2 separate regions of the Homo sapiens genome follow, and region 1 is linked to region 2. The links come from fine-mapping of genetic effects on gene expression. Tissue or cell type: liver. Region 2 holds a variant in brackets; the other region holds the start of a gene. All regions are shown on one strand. Distances are between the middles of the regions.

Region 1 (10,207 bases), 55 kb after region 2:
AGTGATTTCTTTACATTCTAGGTGATGTGAACCTGCTGAAATGCTGCAGGGATTTCAGGCAAGTTAGCCTTGGCAGTGAGAACAGATACAAAGAGAGAAGGAGGTAGGAGGTGTGTGTGGGGACGGGGGAAGTGGGGGAGATTTTTATTGTTCTGAGATAGGTCTAAAATGAAGGACAGTATATCAGTCAGTACAGGCTAACTGCTATAATAAATAACCACACAATTTTGGAGTGGCTTAACCCAAGAAGATTTATTTCTTCACAGTCCAATGCAGTTTTCTTGGGAGGGGAAATTATCAGCTCTACACAGTCATTCAGGAGCTCCGGCCTTCTTCCATCTAGTGGCTCCTCCATCTCTTAGATCCTAGGAGTCCTACCATGAATCCTCTACAAATGGCCAAATTGGCAAAAGAAAGCTCTGGAAGATTGTGTTAATAATAGTTTCAGTTTCAGGAGCTTTCAGGAGCGGCACCTGGGAGTGGCTTATTCTACTTCCACCCACATTCCATTTGCCAGAACTCAGTCACAGGGCATGGGGCAAATGACTGCAGGCATGCTGGGACTTGTCATTTAGCTGGGTGCCCAGAAGGAAGGGAAATGGGATTGGTGAAGCCATATAACCATCTCTAATCCAGATGGACACAGAGTATTCTTTAGCTCAGACCAGGGTGAGTATGTTAACTGCCTAAGGCAGTGAAGGACAGGAGATGGAACAGTTCATTTCATTAAAGGATAAAGTGGGGCATATAATTTTCCTGAACCCTTACTCCAAGCTCCAAGGCCAATTTTAAAGGATGACAGTTTGAGCCAAGGACCTGTTCAGTAAAATTTGGAGTAAAGCTTTTCAAATAGTGCCAAAGAAGCAACCAAAAACAAAAAAAAAAAAAGAGAGAGAGAGGATACATCAGATGGCACCAGCAGAAAAGATCACATACATTTGATTGACTCCTAATCACTCCCCTGTAACTTTTTTCCCCACACAAATTCCTCACACCGGAAATGTTCATTTAAAACAATTAAAAATCCTTCAGGGAACCCCCACCCCACTCCCTGCTACCACATGATCAGCCCAGGGGCTCACATGCTGAAATCTATAGAGAGCTTTAGGTCTCAGAGTATTTGAAGGATAGGCAGGGATCTCACCACCTTAACACAGAAGCAGTCCTACACCCCAATCAGGGAAAGCCTTGGACACTATCTATTGCTACCTTTAGCCTGGGGCAAAGGAGAAAGAGAACTGCACAGCTGTCCTAAACAAGTAGGGTATGAGACCTCTCTCTTCCACCAAGAATAATAATAAGATAGCCTTGATTGAAAACTCACTGTGCGTCAGACACTATGCTTACATGTATGAACTCACAACAATTCAGTGAGGTAACCACTATTATTATCTCTTTTTTACAGATAAGGAAGTTTCCTGATGCCCACAAAGTTTAAATAACGGACTCGAGGTTACCCAGCAATAAATGTTGAAAAAGAGTTTAAATTAGTTGGCTTTCAGAGTTTGTGTTTTGGACAACTATATTCTACTTTGGACAGCACTGTATTTTCTCATTGTAAAAGCAGGCAGGATGGAGTAAAAAATAAAAGTCAAAACAATTTGAAAACAATATTTTGTGATGAACATAAAACATTTTCTACAATCAGCATCCTTCATTTGATTGTCTTACTTTATTATCTGGTAAGTGCCAAAAGAAGACAAAGTGTAGATGTATTTTCCTTAGTTTACTTTTAGCTCCCTTTATTTCAAGCCTCACAGTCAATGTGTTCCCTGCCTTATGTTTCAAGGGGGCTCCAGGGTATTTTTTCTCCCATGTGATTACAAAAGCAGTTAGCCGTTTAGCCTAGCAGGGGGAATGAGAGGAAACGGAGAGGCCAAAAATTTTAAACTTTAGGCACTATATCTCCAATAACTGACAACATTTTATCTTAATTATGCTTTATAGTATTGGAATACTAAACAAAGAGGAACGACCTGCTTACTCTGTAGTCTGGAGCAGAATGAAATAGAACACGTAGGGCAGAACACAACAAATGAGTTGTAAATGTCTGTGCACAAGGCTTGATCTTGGGGATGGAGGGAGGATATTTTTTAAGTTATTCAAACGCTGAGTTGCTTTCAAAGAGTTCTTCTCAGACATCAACAATGAACTCTTCAGATACCCTCATCCCAGACAGCCCTGAAGTCCAGTTTATAACAAGACCAATAACTCACTCCTTATCTCTAAAGCTACTTGTTCAATTCTCTTGACTTCAGGGCCAAAATGAGTTGTTTATTACTTATGGCAAGTATAAAAAAGGCCATCTCAACCTGTGGTCAGTTCCACGAATGGCAACTTGTTTTCTGATAACTTGCATGCACATGGACAATAGCCAAATTTCCAAAAAGATTTAGGTACATCAATTGTATACCGATGGTCATTTAAAACCATTTTTTCCAGCAATATTTTAGCATCTAATTTGATAAATCACTGCATTTGGAGGCTGTGGGGGTGTACAGAGACCTTCAGAAAGCAAACATAAACTGGAGGCTTGGCGGTTTGAAGATATTCAAGCAGAAAAGTCTAGCAAAGAAAAAGGGGGTTGTAATATGGATCAGTCTCCATGTAACCTTGAGCCAATCATCTAACTTCTCTGAAACACCAGTTTTCTCATTTTATGAAACAAGATTTTATTCAATAAACACTATAACTTAGTGAAAGACTGGATCTGGTATCCCGTAGGCTTGGATGGATTGCTGGTACTAGTATTGGAGCTTTTGTTTCCCTGTTTGTTACAATTCGGATATTAGTGAGTACCCTACAGAGGAATAATGATTAAATTGTCTACTTAATTTACTCTTAAGTGTCTGACCACGTATAAGTGGTCAATACAGGCTGTTTTCATTTTTACTATTACTGATGGAACACACTGCATGACTAGCATTGGGAAAGAGGCCCAGAATACAAGGTTGTGCAGAATGCAAAGTCTATTCTCAAGGAATTCGCTTTGTAGGGAAGAGGTGGGGGGTTCAAATAGGAAGTATCAAATTCCTCATTGGGAAAGAAAAGAGGCTTCATAGAAAAGCTGCTGGAGCCCAGGCTTAAAGATGAGTAGCATTGGGGCCAGAACCAGATGTCTAAGAACTCTTTGAGGCTTAATGTTAGGAACTTTTGAAACTATTGGTCTGGAATGTTGTATATATGAAGTTCATTTTTTCAGCATCCAATATTCAGAACACATTCATTCATTAACTTTCCATCCAGAAATGTAATCATTAACTACTGCTGGAGCCTCCTTTCCCACAAAACCAAACAAAACTTGCTTAGCAATCCCAATTCTGAGGCTTGGAAAACACTTTTACATCCTACTCTCTGCTTGCATGTATGAACTCACATACATGAGTTGTGAGGTACTCCTCCTATATTCAGAAAATTGGAGGCCAATATCATAGGCACAGCCAGGGAATGCACCGGCCAAAGCTCAGGCTTTTGGGTGGCATTTGACACCAAGCTCCTTTTAAATCGGGCATCAGCTCTGGGTCAGCAGCCTCACTCCAGTCAAAGAAGAGGAGCCAAACGTCGCAGGAGCAATTTCAAAGACGTCTGGGGAACGAAAAGGGTCTTCGATCCAAGGACCAGCCTAGGGGCCATCGGGAACCAAGGCTCTGGGGGATCCCAGCAGGGCCCAGACGCCCGCCTCGGGCAATGTCGCTGCCTGCCCCGGGCCGCTCGCAGTGCCTGGGCCATACTGGGGTGCCCTGGGGTTTCTTCTCCATACCCAGACTCAGCTTCCCCGCTGGAGTCTGTCTTCCTGGAACACGGAACGCGGGCGGGCTGTGTTCTCAGTCACAATCAGCTCGGATGAGCTGGGGGGCGCGGGCGCAAGCGGGCATCGGCACCTGGCAGAAAGCGCCGCGCCCCCCGCGGGTGCGCACACCTCCGCTCCCCGGGGCGGCGCGCGGTCGGGTGTGCGGGGTACGGGGCGGGGCGGAGCGGAGCAGAGCAAAGCGCACAGGAGGCCCGCCTCTGCTCCCCTCCCCCGCCGGCGAAGATTGACACAGCTCGAGCACCCGCCCCAACCAATGAGCGCGTCCTGGGGCGGGCCCTGGGACCGGCTGCTCCGGCTACTTAGAGTCGTCGGCGCGGCGGTGGGAAAGCAGAGCCGAGCCGGGACTGTCCAGTGGGAGCAGGCGCCCCGGCCAGCGCAGACCTGGAGGCGCACGGGCGCCGCACCGCACGATTCGGCTCGGGGTAGAGCGGAGCCGCAGCCCCACGCGCAGCCCAGGACCCACTCGCCACCGCCGCTTCCTCAGCACCCATGGGGACCAGGAGACTTTAAAGGAGTTTGGGGTTTCGGGAGCAGGGAAATCACGGGTAGGGAGAAGCGGCTTTCTTTGCCTTGGAAACGGTTTTTCTTCATCCGATTGTTTGGATCCTGTGCTGGGTAGGAGGGAGAGGGGTCTTTGGGCTAAAAGTGAACCTCTCTACACACACACGCTCCCACCCACACCCACACACATACACTGCACTGGCTTTCTCCATCCTTCCCCTGCCTCTTTGTTAGGTTATTTTAGACAGAGCAGCCTCGCCCTGGCGCAGTCCCATTGGCCCTGATGGGGACAAGGCAAGAGAAGTAAGGGGCAGAGTGCACCTGCCTGTGAGGGCAGGTGTGCCCGGGTGCTTGGGCGTACGTGCAACGGCGAGCGTGCAAGCGTGGAGCTGAAATTGTGTACGAATGTGTGGGGTCTAAGTGTGCCAGTGTGTCGTCGCGAAGGTTTGTCATTGTGGGTGTATGTGACATACACCAGTATACCAGGCTGCCAGTGTCTGGACTCCCAAGTGTCCAAAATGTTGCTGGTGTCAAGTGAATGCCTGAGAATGTGTCTGATTGTCATTGTGCGAGCCGCTGTAAGGGGAGGAAGGCAACCTAGTGCAAAACTGGGAGGTGGGCTGGAGAGGGTGGGGACAGAAATGGGAGCTTGCTCCCAGCTCACTGGCCTTAGGCTCCCTTCTCCCTTTCAGCCCACCCCTCGGTCCTTCCTGGGTGTCCGTCTCCCACACTGCCACAGCCAGCACTCTCCTCCCCACCGGGACCCCGCAAGCTCTCCAGCCAGCCTGGGTGTTTTCTTCTGGGAGTTGGACCGAGTTCCCGGAAGGGGTCGGAGGCTGTGTGGTGGCGTCTGCTCTCGCCTGACCTGTGGCGGCTTCTCCGCCCCTCGTACCCCTGGGGAGGCACGGAGGACTCGGCTGGAAAGGGTGACTCCGGTGAGGGCACGTAAGCTAGCCGGCAGGTCCCAGGGGCACTGCACGTCTTGGGGAGGGACACCGAAAGGGGCAGCCCGGACTCTGACGGTGTCTCTGCCTCTCTGTGCCTCCGCAGATCCCCGCTCCTGGCCCTCGCCTCGCCACCTCATTGATGGGCAACCAACTGGACCGCATCACCCACCTCAACTACAGCGAGTTGCCCACAGGGGACCCGTCGGGGATTGAAAAGGACGAACTGCGGGTCGGGGTTGCCTACTTCTTCTCGGATGATGAGGAAGACCTGGACGAACGCGGGCAGCCCGACAAGTTTGGCGTGAAGGCCCCCCCGGGTTGCACCCCCTGCCCGGAGAGCCCCAGCCGCCACCACCACCACCTGCTGCACCAGCTGGTCCTCAACGAGACTCAGTTTTCCGCCTTTCGGGGCCAGGAATGCATCTTTTCCAAAGTGAGCGGTGGCCCTCAGGGCGCCGACCTAAGCGTCTACGCGGTCACCGCGCTGCCAGCGCTCTGCGAACCCGGCGACCTGCTGGAGCTGCTGTGGCTGCAGCCCGCGCCGGAGCCGCCCGCGCCCGCCCCGCACTGGGCCGTCTACGTGGGCGGCGGGCAGATCATCCACCTGCACCAAGGCGAGATCCGCCAGGACAGCCTGTATGAGGCGGGCGCGGCCAACGTGGGCCGGGTGGTGAATAGCTGGTACCGCTACCGCCCGCTGGTGGCCGAGCTGGTGGTGCAGAACGCCTGCGGCCACCTGGGCCTCAAGAGCGAGGAGATCTGCTGGACGAACTCGGAGAGCTTCGCCGCCTGGTGCCGCTTTGGCAAGCGGGAGTTCAAGGCGGGAGGGGAGGTGCCGGCAGGCACGCAGCCCCCGCAGCAGCAGTACTATCTCAAGGTGCACCTGGGAGAGAACAAGGTCCACACCGCCAGGTTTCACAGCCTGGAAGACCTCATCCGCGAGAAGCGCCGTATCGACGCCAGCGGCCGCCTGCGAGTGCTCCAGGAGCTCGCCGACCTCGTGGACGACAAGGAGTAGCCGCCTAGGGGCTGCCGGCCCCTCTGCCTCCCCCGCACCTCGCTCCCTTCCCTTCCCCGCACCCGGACTTCGCAGTCAGCGGTTCTCAACCTCTGCCCCGCCCCGCCACGCGCGTCCGCCGCCGGTGGCCCGGGCCCGGGCTGCACCCCCGCATCCCCAAGCCAGCGGCAGGAAGTCTCAGGAACTGCCCCAGGGCCGAAAGGGCGCCGCTGCGAGCGCCTGGCTGACAGCCACAGCGGTGGTGACGGTGCTGGGAGACCCCGCGTGCGCTTTCCCCTTGAGATGTAAACCGGGAACGGGGAAGGGGCTGAGGGGAGAAAGGACATGGCCTTCCCCGCGAGTCCATGGCCAGTGACTGTGGCCCGACTCGAAAACAACCCTCTTCTCAAAAGGGACCATCACCGCCCCGAGCGTGCGCACACAGACCGGTCGGAGGCGAGAACTGGTCTCTACAGGGCACAGTTCAGCTCCTCTGTGGATGCGTCCCCAGATCGCAGGATTTCCAAGAAATCGAGCCTGTCCCTTGTGCACTTGGGAATAATTCCCCAAGACAGCACTTCGGGATTCCGGGTTATCCTGAGGCTGCCCGGGACTTTTCCAGCTCTCCAGCCCCAGGTCTCCTGACATTGTGTTCCAGGCTGCGGGCTAAGCCAGACAGTGTTTGCCTCCGGTTCTTTCCACCGTGGGAAGCGAACGCCACCCCCACCCGCCTTTGCCTGCGAGTCTCCCTCGCTGGCAGAAGGGAAGCCGGCCCGGTCCCGGGAGGAAGATGGCGCTGCGAATTCGGTGAGGACAGCCGGCCCCGCCCCCGACAAGGAGCTCGCTCGTTCACCTGGTGTCTGGGAACTTGAATGTGTGAAGGGCGCTTATTGTTCTGAACCCTTGATTGCTCCCTCCTCGGGCTGCATTTCAAAAATAGTCATATTTTTAAAGGAGTTGGAGGAGAGGGAGGGGGAGGACATGGCACCATTCCAGAAACCAGCATTGTTACAACACCATAGCCAGTATATTTAGTTTGGCTTTTCCTAACATAGAAATCTTCAAAGCTGGGGAAGTGGAAATAAAGTTTTAAAAATGAGAGAGCAGTTTTCCAACTATGTCAACAAAGCCTATCGTGTTGATGTTTTTATTGACCATTTTAGCAACAGGCTAATAAAATTTCAAATTGAAATTTTTATTTTCATGGCTTTAATCCATGATAGTTTAAATACTGGGGGCCATTAAGAGTGGATGTAGCTAAGAGCTTAGCTAACATTGCCTTTTCACTCTATTTTTCTCAGATATTGTAAGCATTCTGTTTTTCAATATTGTAGTTAATTTTTTGGCTTTCAACAGCAGCCCTAGTAATGGTGGAGTTGTTAATTAATGTGTATATTGTACTGAATTTCTGTCAGTTAAGGGGTTCACTGCTTTGGTGGAAATTGGTGGAAATTGCTAGCAGGTTCCACGATGTTTATTTTTTTCTCCATGTTGTATATCATTACCATTTCACATACGCGTTTCTATTTTTCTTCCTCTCCTCCTGATCTCCTTAAAAATGAATCTAGAGTTGGTGGCTTTTTCCCCCTCCTCTTTGGCCAGTTCCACAGTTCAGTTCTTCCTGAAAACAGGGATGATGAACTTGTAGGATCAGGACAAATGTGTGTTTTTCAAAAACTTAAGGCTGGGTGTGAAACACCTTCTGTGGACAAGGATTTGTAAACTTCTCTCCTCCCTCCAGCTGCGGCCCCAGCCTAACTGATAGTTACTTGATTCAGTGTGCTAGACACTTAAATAGCATCTATGTCTCTTTCAAGGGAATTTGTCAAATAATGCTGTTTAGCTAATTGTTGCAAGCAATTGCATATTAACAGCTGTGATTTTGTTGGACAGCAAGTATTATGGCCAAAGCCAGTTTCTTGGCATTTCAAAAATAATGCAATAAAAACTAGTTGAGGTTAGCTGAGGCTGGAAATGCCTTTTTCATGGTAAATGATTCACTTCTATATTTTTCTTTCTTTTTCTTTTTTTTTCTTTGGTTTTCATCCTGGATTCATCCCCTGATCTTAAATCAAAACGTCAGATCAATGAACTATGAACTAAAGTATTTTTCTTAAGCCTATTGAGTGATTTATTTTTTAAAAAATGTTTAAATGCATATGCTTTTCTTTCAGCACAAACAACAGCAAAAACTTTTGTAATAACTAACTTACCTTTGCATGTATGAAGAACTGAGTCATTTATTTCCCTAACTTACTCCTCTTTCAAGTAACAGGTGGCAGATCATAAAATGAATTCTTTATTGTATCTACACACTCCACATTCTTTACTGTGTCCTACTACTGTATCTTGGCTCCCTGCTGTATTAAACACCATCTTAAGCACTTGTTCCTGCAGGACTCCTTCTTGACATTTTGTCTCCCCCTTCAAAGTCACTCAAAGAGTGGGACTTCATCAAAAGAAATGAATTAGTCTCTATCACACCGAATACTAAGATTTATTTCCTCTGATGGTACATAGATTTCTCTCTCACTAAGAGGGTCACTCTCATAGAGGAATGTCTTGTCAGTTTTATACTTGCTGAGGCTAGACTGACAATAAAAATGAGCTGGGCAGTTAAATTAGCATTTGTTACTATATTGGCCTATAAAGGATCAGGTTGATGATAATACCTCTAAAAATATGCAATAATAAAACAATAGTTATGAAAGAAACTTGAAAGGTTTGCAAGGTTTCTCCTATCCCTGTTAAAATTATCATTTATTATCTCTTTGTCAGTGTTAGTAAGGTAACCCATGACAGAATAATTTGAGTGATAGTTCATCATGCAGAGGATATGATCAAGATATTACCTAATGGTTTTATCCTGAAAAAGGTGTATACTTTTAGGGCACTGTTAACAATGCGAGTGAAACCAAGATGGTGCAAGTTCCCTTTGCAGATGGCGTGGGCACACTTGATTTTTATTATGAGTGAATGTAATCTTTCTGTATTTTACCAGAGTTACAGCAATTACCTGAAAAGTTTCCTAACATTTTAATAATGTTAGGGATTTCGTTTTGGTTTTAGTTGTCCTCAAGAGACAACAGGTTCACAGTAATTTCCATGATGTTGGGTGTGGCTAAGCTGGGGATTGGTTCTGTTCCCCCTGCTCCCGTGTAGAGAAAAGCTATATTTATACTGCATTCTTTCTCAACTTTCAGGTAAAACAAACTATGATTTAAAAAAAGAAAAAAGAAAAGACAGGTACTTTTACTTCAAAGAGTGCTTTGCTACATTTTTATTTAAACCAAAAATCAAATAAAATAAGGAGGGGGGCTGGGTATACTTTAAACAAAACCAGTCCTGAAATGCTGTTATTCTCAAAGTACATTCCAAAAAAAAAAAAAAAAAAAAACTATAGAATTTACGTATGTTACATTTTTAAGTATGAGTTAAATTGATATAAAGTGTTCCTCAATATTTAATAATGTAAGCTGTTGTCATGACAGTATTTTTTAAAAATAATAACGTATATTATAGTTACGAAACACTTGTGCCAGATTAGAACATCAAGCACAGAAGCAGCTGTATGATTTACCTGTTTTTTTGAAACTTTAATGTTTACCTTCCCCTATGTTTAATTTTTCTGTGGTGAACACTTTTGTTAGAACATGGCTTTTTTATTTTTCTTGGAAAAATATGCTATTAGTATTTACAAAATAATTAATTACCTGAATAAGCAGTATATACTAAAAGTCTTCAAACATTACTTTATTGATTACTTATGTTTTGTGGTGCGCTTTCAACATCCCTAAGAGTTAAATGTCTTAGTCATCTAATACATGGAACAGGGTCAAACTTCAATGAAATTAATACTTATTGCACAATCATAATATAGCAACCTAATTTTCTTTTATTTATAGGCATATCTTTAAAGCTTTCTTCTCTTTTTTGAACAAATGAAGAGAA
Region 2 (10,207 bases):
CTAATAAAATTTCCCATACACACTCAGAGAAGGGGAGGAGGAGGCTGAGATAGGATTGTCAATTTTTATTTCTCCAAATAAAATGAGAAAATATTATTTGAACTTTAAAAACATGAAACAATTAAAATCTTAGATAACATTAAATTCTTTAAATTTAATATAACTGAGTTTATAAAAATTTGACTTTTTTTTCATTTATTCAGAATTGATAAAAATTTCCTCATGCATCAGAACCAAAATATGTCATTGTACTTGGGAACTCAGGTTACAGCACTTCTAAAAAGCATTAGAATACTGTAATTCTTTCAAAGTTCAGAATACTAGCAGATTTGAAAGAGTGTTTTTTGCTCCAAAATTCTATGGAATTCTGTAATTTGAGATGCTTCAAACCCATAATTATCTTTTTTTATTATAGACTCTTTTAAAAATGATTTTTTTAACTGAATGTTCTGTTTGCAGGTTGATAAGAGCAACTTTAAATGTGAAGATCGACTCATATTTTTTCCACTTTAGCCAAATGATTAATTTGATGGCAAAGGAACCTAAAAGTATTCAGTACATTTGCACTGTAAGGACTCAGCTACTATGCTCTGAAGTTTTTATCTCTCATTCATAAATGTGCTTAACAGAACTATATCTTCTGAAGAGTTTACTTATTGTTGTTATTTTTAATGTGTTCTACATATCAAAGAAAATCACAAATGTGAATCTTGGATTAAAACTACATGTTACCATGCTGTCCCCTGTAAAACGTGGATAAAAGTGACAGCACTCTCATATTGATTGAGGTAGCTGTGAAGCTTACATGAGTTATCTGAAATAATTTTGTGATCTAAAGAATTTTAAACTCTCAGTATTTTATAAAAACTCCTTAAAATCATAGATAACTTGGAAATTGTTTCAAAGAGTGCATGGTATTATGATATTATAGCATTTTAAAAGTAACAAAATACATTTTTAAAATATCTCATCAAAGATTTTTGAAAGAAATAATGGGGTTGAGGTTCTTTTATCCTTAAGATTGTAAAAAACAAATTTGTTATGCATGAGGGCAATGCCCTCAAGATATAAGTTTGTAGAAGAATGTAGAATATTTTAAGAACAATTAAATCAAATGAGGCAAAGTAAAATAGGATATAAATGAAGCCCATTTTAGGAAAATGTGACAGAAAATTCATGCTACATAGCTTTGCTAAATGTAGTAATTGGAATATTTTACAACCTAGCTTAAATTAGCATGTCCTAGAAAAATGATTTAATCTAATAGGGGAGGCTTAAATCTTCTGTTTTTATTTTTCTTGGAAACTAAGAAACAGTAGGTTGTTTTTTCATTTCTTGCATTTTTTTCTCCTGAATTTAAAATAATAATTACCTAGCACAGAAGAATATTAGTACAGCAGAAATGGGTAATGACTTAGAAAGTATCCAATATGGGTCGGGCGTGGTGGCTCACGCCTGTAATCCCAGCCCTTTGGGAGGCCGAGGCGGGCGGATCACAAAGTCAGGAGATCGAGACCATCCTGGCTAACACAGTGAAACCCCGTCTCTACTAAAAATACAAAAAATTAGCCAGGCGTGGTGGCGGGTGCCTGTAGTCCCAGCTACTCGGGAGGCTGAGGCAGGAGAATGGCGTGAACCCGGGGGGCGGAGCTTGCAGTGAGCCGAGATCGCGCCACTGCACTCCAGCCTGGGCGTCAGGGCGAGACTCCGTCAAAAAAAAAAAAAAAAGAAAGAAAGAAAGAAATTATCCAATATGGGACCAAATACAGTCCATCAGTGATTGGTGATCATTGATTCACTATTGGCAGAGGACAGTGAAGCTTCCTCTGAACCTCTCAGAAAAGAATCATAAACTTGTTTTTCATTTCTATGGCAGATGTTTATTGATTTTTATGATGCACGAAGAGTGTACCTGACACAGGTTGACAGTGGCAAAGATAACACTGCTCCTGCCCCTGGGGAGCCAGCAGCTTATTCCAATGAATGGGATGTTTTCCATGGTAAGTGAAATACATGATCCTTTGAAGGCACATTCCAAGAACATCTAACATAATCCAGAGCATCAGGGATGCCTCTGTGAAGGAATTAACCTAAAAACTGACTTTTGGAAGGTGTTAACTGGGAAAGAGATTGGTAATAAGGTGTTCCCCGGAAGGAAAGAGAAGAAAAGAGGCAAAGGCTCAGAGACGACCAGGGCCACACAGATGCTAAATACCATTCAGGATGCCCCACACAGAGAATGAGAGGGAAGTAGGGGACATGTATCAAAGGGCTGTGTATGATGTCTTAGCGGGAACTAAAAAATGCTTAATAAATAAGACATCCGCTGCAGCTACTGCTTCTTTATTCTGGAGGAATAACACAATTCATATATGGAGCAAGAGTCTGATGAGACAGAATGCTCAAATACCCAAGTTATAGAAAGCAGGTTTATTACTTACAAATAGGTAGCAAGGGACCACAGAAACCGGGATTCAGGGCAAGCTTGCTTCAGGACAAGGCTCAGGAAAGCTGCCCAGGGCAGATGTAGCCTCTTCTGTAAGTGCCCCAGGGTTTATACCCCAGGGAACATGACACACTGTGCTAAAGCTTTGAAGGACATCCTGTTTCTGGGAGGGACTGTAACAGAACCCAGGTTGTTCCAGACAGCTTCTGCTTATATCAGGATGTGCATTCCCAGAACATTCTACAGTTATTGTTGAAAACTACAAACAAGAAAAGGGGAAACTGGGTTGGTTCAAGACCACCTGGAGAACTGTCGTGTGGGAATCAGATGACCAGAAAAATCCTAAACCTACCAATAACCCTAAGATATAAAGAGCGAGATAGGTTCTGCGTGGAATGTGGGATTCAGCCATGCTGTTATTTTATTTTATTTTTGAGACAGAGTCTCGCTCTGTCGCCCAGGCTGGAGTGCAGTGGTGAGATCTCGACTCACTGCAGCCTTGACCTCCTAGGCTCCAGGGATCCTCCCATCTCAGCCTCCTGAGTAGCTGGGACTACAGACATGCACCAACCACACCTGACTAATTTTGTTTATTTCTTGTAGAGATGGGTCTCACTATGTTGCCCAGGCTGGTCTTGAACTTCTGGGCTCAAGCAATCCTCCCACCTCAGCCTCAGTGCTGGAATTACAAGCCTCAGCCACTGCACCCAGCCACCTGTAGTCTTTTTTAAGGATGTTTCTGTTAGCAACAAATTTTCATAGTTTTCCTTTATCTTAGGAGGCTTGCATTTTCCCTTCATTCCTGAAGGGTATTTTTGCTGCATATAAAATCCAGAGTTGATTGTTCTTTTCTTTTAGCACTTGATGCTTTGTGCCACTTTCTTTTGGCTTCCATGATTTCAGATGATAACTCTACTGCCGCTCTAATTGTTGTTCTTCTGTAGGCAATGCACTGCTTTTCTCTAGTTTCTTAACAACTAGCTATATCTGCAGTGGTCCTGTTTCCAAATAAAGTTAAATTCCGAGGTACTGAGGATTAAGACTTCAACACACAAATTTGAGGGGGATTCAGTTCAGCTGGTAACATCATGTTAGCTCTTTATTTAAGATTTTCAAAACTCTCTTATCAAGATTTTTCCATTATTTCCAGCAGCATTAGTGGTTCGCCCATCATTTTATTGAAAATAAGTCTTAATTATTGTTGGTTTATTCATTCAATCGTTTATACAATCATTGATTTATTTAGTTACGAAAATCTTGAGCTCCTATACTGTGCCAAGAAGTGGTGATAAAAAGTTTTTATATGACATCAGCATCTAAGAATTTATGGTCCATTACAGGGGCAAAAAAAGAGGCAGGTACACATATAGCCATATGAAAGTTTCAACAAGGTCAGTTCCATCAGAGTGGTAAGGAATGTGCTTTGGTGATTTTGAGGATGGAGATTATTTTCATGTTAAAAAGGGTATCAAGGAAAGCTTCATGGAGAGAGTAGTATTTTATTGACATTTTTAAAAATAGGCAAGATTTTAATACATGAAGATGAGAAGAAAAGGGAACTCCTAGTAGAAGAAAGAGATTAAACAAAGGCAAAGAGATGAGAAAATGTTTGATGTGCACAAGAAACAGGATTCTACTTGCTGCTTTTTGTTCATCAGGGCTAATTATGCCACCCACAAGTTTGGAAATTCTTTCAGAGCAGAAATAAGGTATTTGTGTATCAGAGAGAATGAGCCAGACTTTAGAATTAATCAGACCTCAGTCTAAATCCTAGCTCCCACACTTAATAGCTGTGTGCTCTCAGCTTCTCTCAGTCAGTTTCCTCACTACCGACCTTACAGATGGTCTTAAGGCCATAAGAAAGGAATACATGGTATTCAGCGTTCTACCTGTAATTTCCACTATAGCGACAGGCAGACAGAACCAATGTGCATGGTTGTTTACTTCACAGATGTTCCCGTTCTGTTGGCAAGTATGGGCTGCAATTCATCCCTCTCTTCACCTGCCAAGTTTGTGTCCTGGCTCAGGGCTGCATCCACCTCTGTGAAGCAATGCCTGCTTCTCCCTAGCAAATCCTCTTCCCATTGCCTAGCTGAATACCAATTCAGAAGCAGCACCTTTTTTTAATTCATGTAAAAGAACAATGAAGATGAGTCACAGCTTTGGGCACATGATGGGTATACGTGGTTAGGCCAAATAGATTATTGTCTCTAATTGACTTCATAATAAAAGCTTTCATGATAAAGACCAAGATGTCTAAAGACTTTGTTCAAATACCTGT[G/A]CATTTTGTTCATGACCTATGATTTTCCTGATTGAAAAAATCATAAAATTTTACCTCATATATTTGCTTTTTGGTTACAATCCTAGAATCTGAGGCACAATACAAGAAGCAAGAGATGATTTTTAAATCAAATCTAAGCATTCTTTGGTAGTGAGAAGAAAAAATTAACAGGGCTGTAGTGAAATGTGCACAAATCTGAATGGTGCTAAGACATGGAATATGTAAAGTTCAGTCATTACAACTGTTTGATTAGATAACTAATTATAATTACTTATGCTATATGGCTTAGTTAATATGATTAAATAAGGAATGTTTGATGCTATCCAGTTACACCCGAAATGGTAAAGTGATGTAAATGGGATTGAAGTGTCAGTAGAAATTTTTACTTAAGTACAGCGGTGTTGCCTCTGTGAAGGCTTCCTCACCATCTTTGAGCCTATCACATACTAGAGAAGAATCCTAATTCTAGAAATAAAATTACATGGACTTTAATTCTGATTGGCTATCTGCAAGCAGTGCAAACCATGAGCAAGTTATTGAACCTCTCTCAGCAATCAATTACTTTTTACATAGGCCTGCTGTGATGATTAAATGAGATGATTTATACAAACCACTTAGCAAGATTGCCTGGAATATGATAATCTCTCAATAGTTAGCATCTTCTAATATTAATATCACCCGATATTATTTTCTAATTTCCCCATTGTATCAGACTTGCTTGCACATCCATCTATGGTAGTCATTGCTTTCTCTAACCATATAGAATTCATTGTGGTTTTCAAAATCATGCTGAAATCACAGCTAGTGTAGTTGTAATCATAAAGCCTGGCCCCAGCTTTGAACTTCTAATGCTGTAGAAGTTACATGGAGCAGCCATAATGAATATTTGCAGAAGGAAGGGTATCCAAGAAGGACAGAGGGAAAGAGAACGAAACAGAGTTATGAAAACAGGTAAGCATTTGAAAGTTACAAGAAGACTGGAAGTCAAAGACTATATGTATTATCAAAGACCTGAGTTGAGGAAAAGCTGCATAAACTCATACATTTATATCAGCCACTATTAACTCTTTTGCCCCAATGAGTATATGTATGGAGCCAATGTTTTGAATACATACTTCCTTAAGCTACAACCCATACTTTCCTTTGAAGATAAATACAATAATTATTAAAATCTATTGGCAAAAGTCCAGGCACAGTGACTCACACCTGTAATCTCAGTACTTTGGGAGGTTGAGGTGGGCAGATCACTTGAGCCCAAGAGTTCAAGACCAGCCTAGGCAACATAGTGAGATCCCACCTCTACAAAAAATACAACAATTAGCCTGGCATGGTGGCAGGCACCTGTAGTCCCAGCTTACTTGGAAGGCCGAGGTGGGAGGATCACTTGAGTCAGGGAAACGGAGGTTGCAGTAAGATGAGCTCATGCCACTGCATTCCAGCCTGGATCACAGAGTAAGACCCTGTCCCAGAAAAAAAAAAATTAGTGGCAATCATTTTAACCATGTAATATGATCTACTGTATACTCTTGGTCAAGTACAAAGAACTGAAGACAATTGCTGATAATGGTTGTCTGTATAATTTTCAGCAGTAACACATCCATGTATGATAAGCTAGGCAAGTGTTGAAATAGACATAATTGTCCATCCTGAAGTTTACACTTCTAATTTACCACCTCACAATGGGACTTAAAGAACAGATAGCTTTCTTCTGATTTGAAAGCTAATTTATGTTGAATTTATCTGTTACAAAAATAAAGCAATTTCATGTTTTAGTTTTTTTTTTTAACCTCTGATCTAAGACAACAATTATTAAGATACACTAGCGTAGACTGTGGTAAAGAGAATAGCTTTAGGAGTCAAACAGACCTATGTTAAAATTCTAGATCTACCATGTACTGGTTATATAGAGTAAAAATTATAAGAACAGCCTCAAAGATGGGTAGTTTAAATTGAATAATGTATGACTCGCTTAGCATGGTGTCTGGAATGTTACAAGCCTCCAGTAAAGAGTAGCAATTGTTCTGCGACCAAAAATATCTATTATAGAGACAGCATTCAGATAATTGGTGCTAAAGACAGACTTCTAACAGGAATATTAATAGAAATAAAACACTAAGACAATTGTTAAAATGTGAGCTCCAGGAGACAGCACTATTTGTTCATTTTGTTCACTCCTTTATATCCTAAACATTTCTGACACAGAGCAAATGCTTAATAAACATTTGTTATATTAATTAATAAAAAGCTATAGAAAATTACATCCCAATAAAGACCCTATCGGCCCTGGGAAAGCACGACGGTGTCCGTCTTTCTTCTCCATCCTCCCAGCATGCTCTGTGCTAAGGGTTTCATCCTGGCTGTAAAGTAGGAGGCAGCCCTGCAGCTCAAAGCTTTTGTTTTGTTTTGCTTGAATTATAAATTGACAATTTATAATTTTATAAATTTATAGGGTACAAAGTGATGCTATGAGTTATGAATACAATGTGGCATAATTAAAACAAGCTTGTTAACATATCCAGCACCTCCAATAGTTAAGATTGTTTGTGGTGAAAACACTCGAAATTTACTCTCAGAAATTTTGAAATATACAATACTCTATTATTAACTATATTCACTATGCTGTGCAACATAACCCAAAAATGTATTTCTCCTAAGTTTTTATACACTTTGACCATCATGTCCCCCATTACCCCACCCTCCAGCCTCTGTAACCACCGTCCTACTCTCTGCTTCTGTGAGTTCAATTGATTTAGATTCTACATATAAGTGAGAATGTGGCATTTGTCTTTCTGTGCCTGGCTTATTTCACTTAGCATAACATTTCCAGTTCCATCCATGTTGTCACAAACATCAGGATTTCCTTCTCTTTTAAGGCCAAATAGTATTCCGGTTTGCGTACATAGCATATTTTTTTTTATTCATTCTTCTGTTGATGGACATAGGTTGATTCCATAACTTGGCTATTGTGAATAATCCTGCAAGGAACATAGAAGTGCAGATATCCCTTTGCCAAATTGATTTCATATCTTCTGGGTAACTATTCAGAAATGGGATTGCTGGATCATATGGCAATTCTATTTCTAGTTTTTCCAGGAACCTTCACACAGTTTTCCGTAATGGCTGTGTTAATTTACATTCCCACCAACAGCATGCAAGGGATCCCTTTTCTCCACATACTCATCAATACTTATATTTCTTCTTTTTGATAGTAGCCATTCTAACAGCATGAAGTGAGATTTTATTGTGGTTTTAGTTTGTATTTCCCTAATAATTAGTGATGTGGAGCACCTTTTCATACACCTGTTAACCATTTGTATGGCTTCTTCTAAAATTATCTATTCAGGTCCTTTGCCCATTTCTAAAACTGTGTTGTTTTCTTACTATTGAATTGTTTGAGTTCCTTATACATTATATTTTGGATAATTAGCTCCTTAGGACTTGTATGATTTGCAAATATATTCACTCATTCAGTAGGGTGTCTCTTTACTCTGTTGATTTCTTTCCTTTGCTATGCAGAAGCTTTACAGTTCAACATAATCCCATTTGTCTATTTTTGTTTTTATTGCCTGTGCTTCTGGGGTCAAATCTAAAAAATCATTGCCCATACAATGTCATGTAATTCCCCCCCTGTGTTTTCTTTTGGCAGCTTTACAGTTGTGGTCTTATGTTTACGTCTTTCATACATTTTGATTTGATTTTTGTATATGGTATGAAATAATTAACAGAACGAAGGGCAAAAACCATATATCTGATTATATGCAGATAAAGCTTTTGACAAAAATTCTAAATTCTTTCATAATTAAAAATTGTCACCAAATTAGATATAGAAGAAATGTACCTCAACTCAATAAAGGCCATGTGTGAGAAGCCCACAGCTAGCATTATACTCATTATTGAAAAACTGAAACCCTTACTTCTAAGACCTGGAACAAGACAAGGATGCCTACTCTCACAACTTCTATTTAACAGTAGTGGAAGAACTTGCCAGAGCAGTTAGGCAAGAGACAGAAATAAAGGTATCCAAGTAGGGAAGGAAGTAGTGAAATTGTCACCGTTTGGTGATGACATGATTTTATATATAGAAAACTATACAAACTCTCACCAAAGAAGTTTTAGAACTAATAATCAAATACAGTAAAGTCACAGGATACAAAATCAACACACAAAAGTCATTAGCATTTCTATACACTAACAACAAATGATTTGCAAAAGAAATCAAGAGAGCAATCGCATTTAGAAGAGCTACAAAAACTAAAATACTTAGGAATAAATTTAACCAAAGAGGTGAAAGACCTATACACTGAAAACTATAAAACTTTGATGAAAGAAATTGTAGAAGACACAAATAAATGGAAAGATATCCTGTGTTCATGGATTGAAAAAAATAATGTTTTGAAAATGTCCATACTATGTAAAGCAATCTATAAATTCAATGCAATTTCCATCAAAATTCCAACATTATTTTTCACAGAAAGAGAAAAAAAAACTGAAATTTATATGGAACTACAAAAATATCTGAATAGCCAAGGCAATCTAGAGCAAAAAGAACAAAGCTGGAGGTATCACATTACCTAATTTCAAGCAATACTACAAAGCAATAGTAATTAAAATACCATGGTACTGGCCAAAACATTAATAATAATAATAGATAACTTGACCAAGGGAATAATATAGAGAGCTCAGACATAAACCCGTACATATATGGCCAATTAATTTTTGGCAAAGGAGCCAAGTATTTGCAATGAAAAATAATAGTCTCTTTCATAAATAGTGCTGAGAAAACTAGATACCCACATACAGAAGAATGAAATTGGGGCTTAAAGCTTCTCAAACATGAAAAGAAATTTTCTGTACATTAAAAGCCTTCCAGTCAAGGAGCTCTTATTTATTTTTAGTCACCTAAATGGAAACTATTTTAATCTTTTTGGATAGAAAGTGAAGTCAGTGCCAAGGGCAAAGGACTTGGGTACTAAATATTTGGCTCTGGCCTCAAGCCTGCCATTCACTAGCTGTGCGGTCTTGAGGTCGCTGCAATAACCAACACCTGATGTAACTCAAGGGTTTATGTATGTTATAAGAAGCCAGAGATGTATTCAACAAGAGAGGGAAATAAAGTTATGAAACATCCTGTGAGTTGATTTCCTCCCCAGTAAAGAGAAATAACCTCTGATTTGTCTACACTATGATTCCTAAACGATTGCTCTACAAAAATAATATATATTCACTTTTCCGGGATAATACCACTTCATTACAATAATAGCTACAGCTTATTATAAATAATTTTTAAATCCCTTCTAAAGGAAAGGATTGAAATACCTGGACAACGAGTAAAGAAACAAACTGAAAAAAAAATTGGTGACATTAAATGACACAATGGTTTAAAATGCATTTCATTTCAGAGCATTTCTTAGAAATATTATTTTAACATTGAATTGTTACAGCAGCTACTTTTTCTTGTATTTGGGCCCTGAAAATAGTAC

Evidence for each region. PIP is the estimated chance that this variant, and not a neighbour inherited with it, causes the effect.
Region 1: LRATD1 starts here. The variant in region 2 is fine-mapped to the expression of LRATD1 in liver (GTEx, PIP 0.96).

The regions. Positions count from the first base shown.
Region 1 is chr2:14,628,582-14,638,788 of GRCh38, forward strand. LRATD1 (LRAT domain containing 1) reads left to right here and starts at 4,136. Exons shown (of 2, transcript NM_145175.4): 1 at 4,136-4,356; 2 at 5,363-10,207. The coding sequence starts at 5,399. The coding sequence ends at 6,277.
Region 2 is chr2:14,573,540-14,583,746 of GRCh38, forward strand. No RefSeq gene overlaps it. Among named protein-coding and RNA genes, the nearest start is that of LRATD1, 54 kb to the right of the region's middle. The variant G/A (reference allele first, on the strand shown) is at 4,728.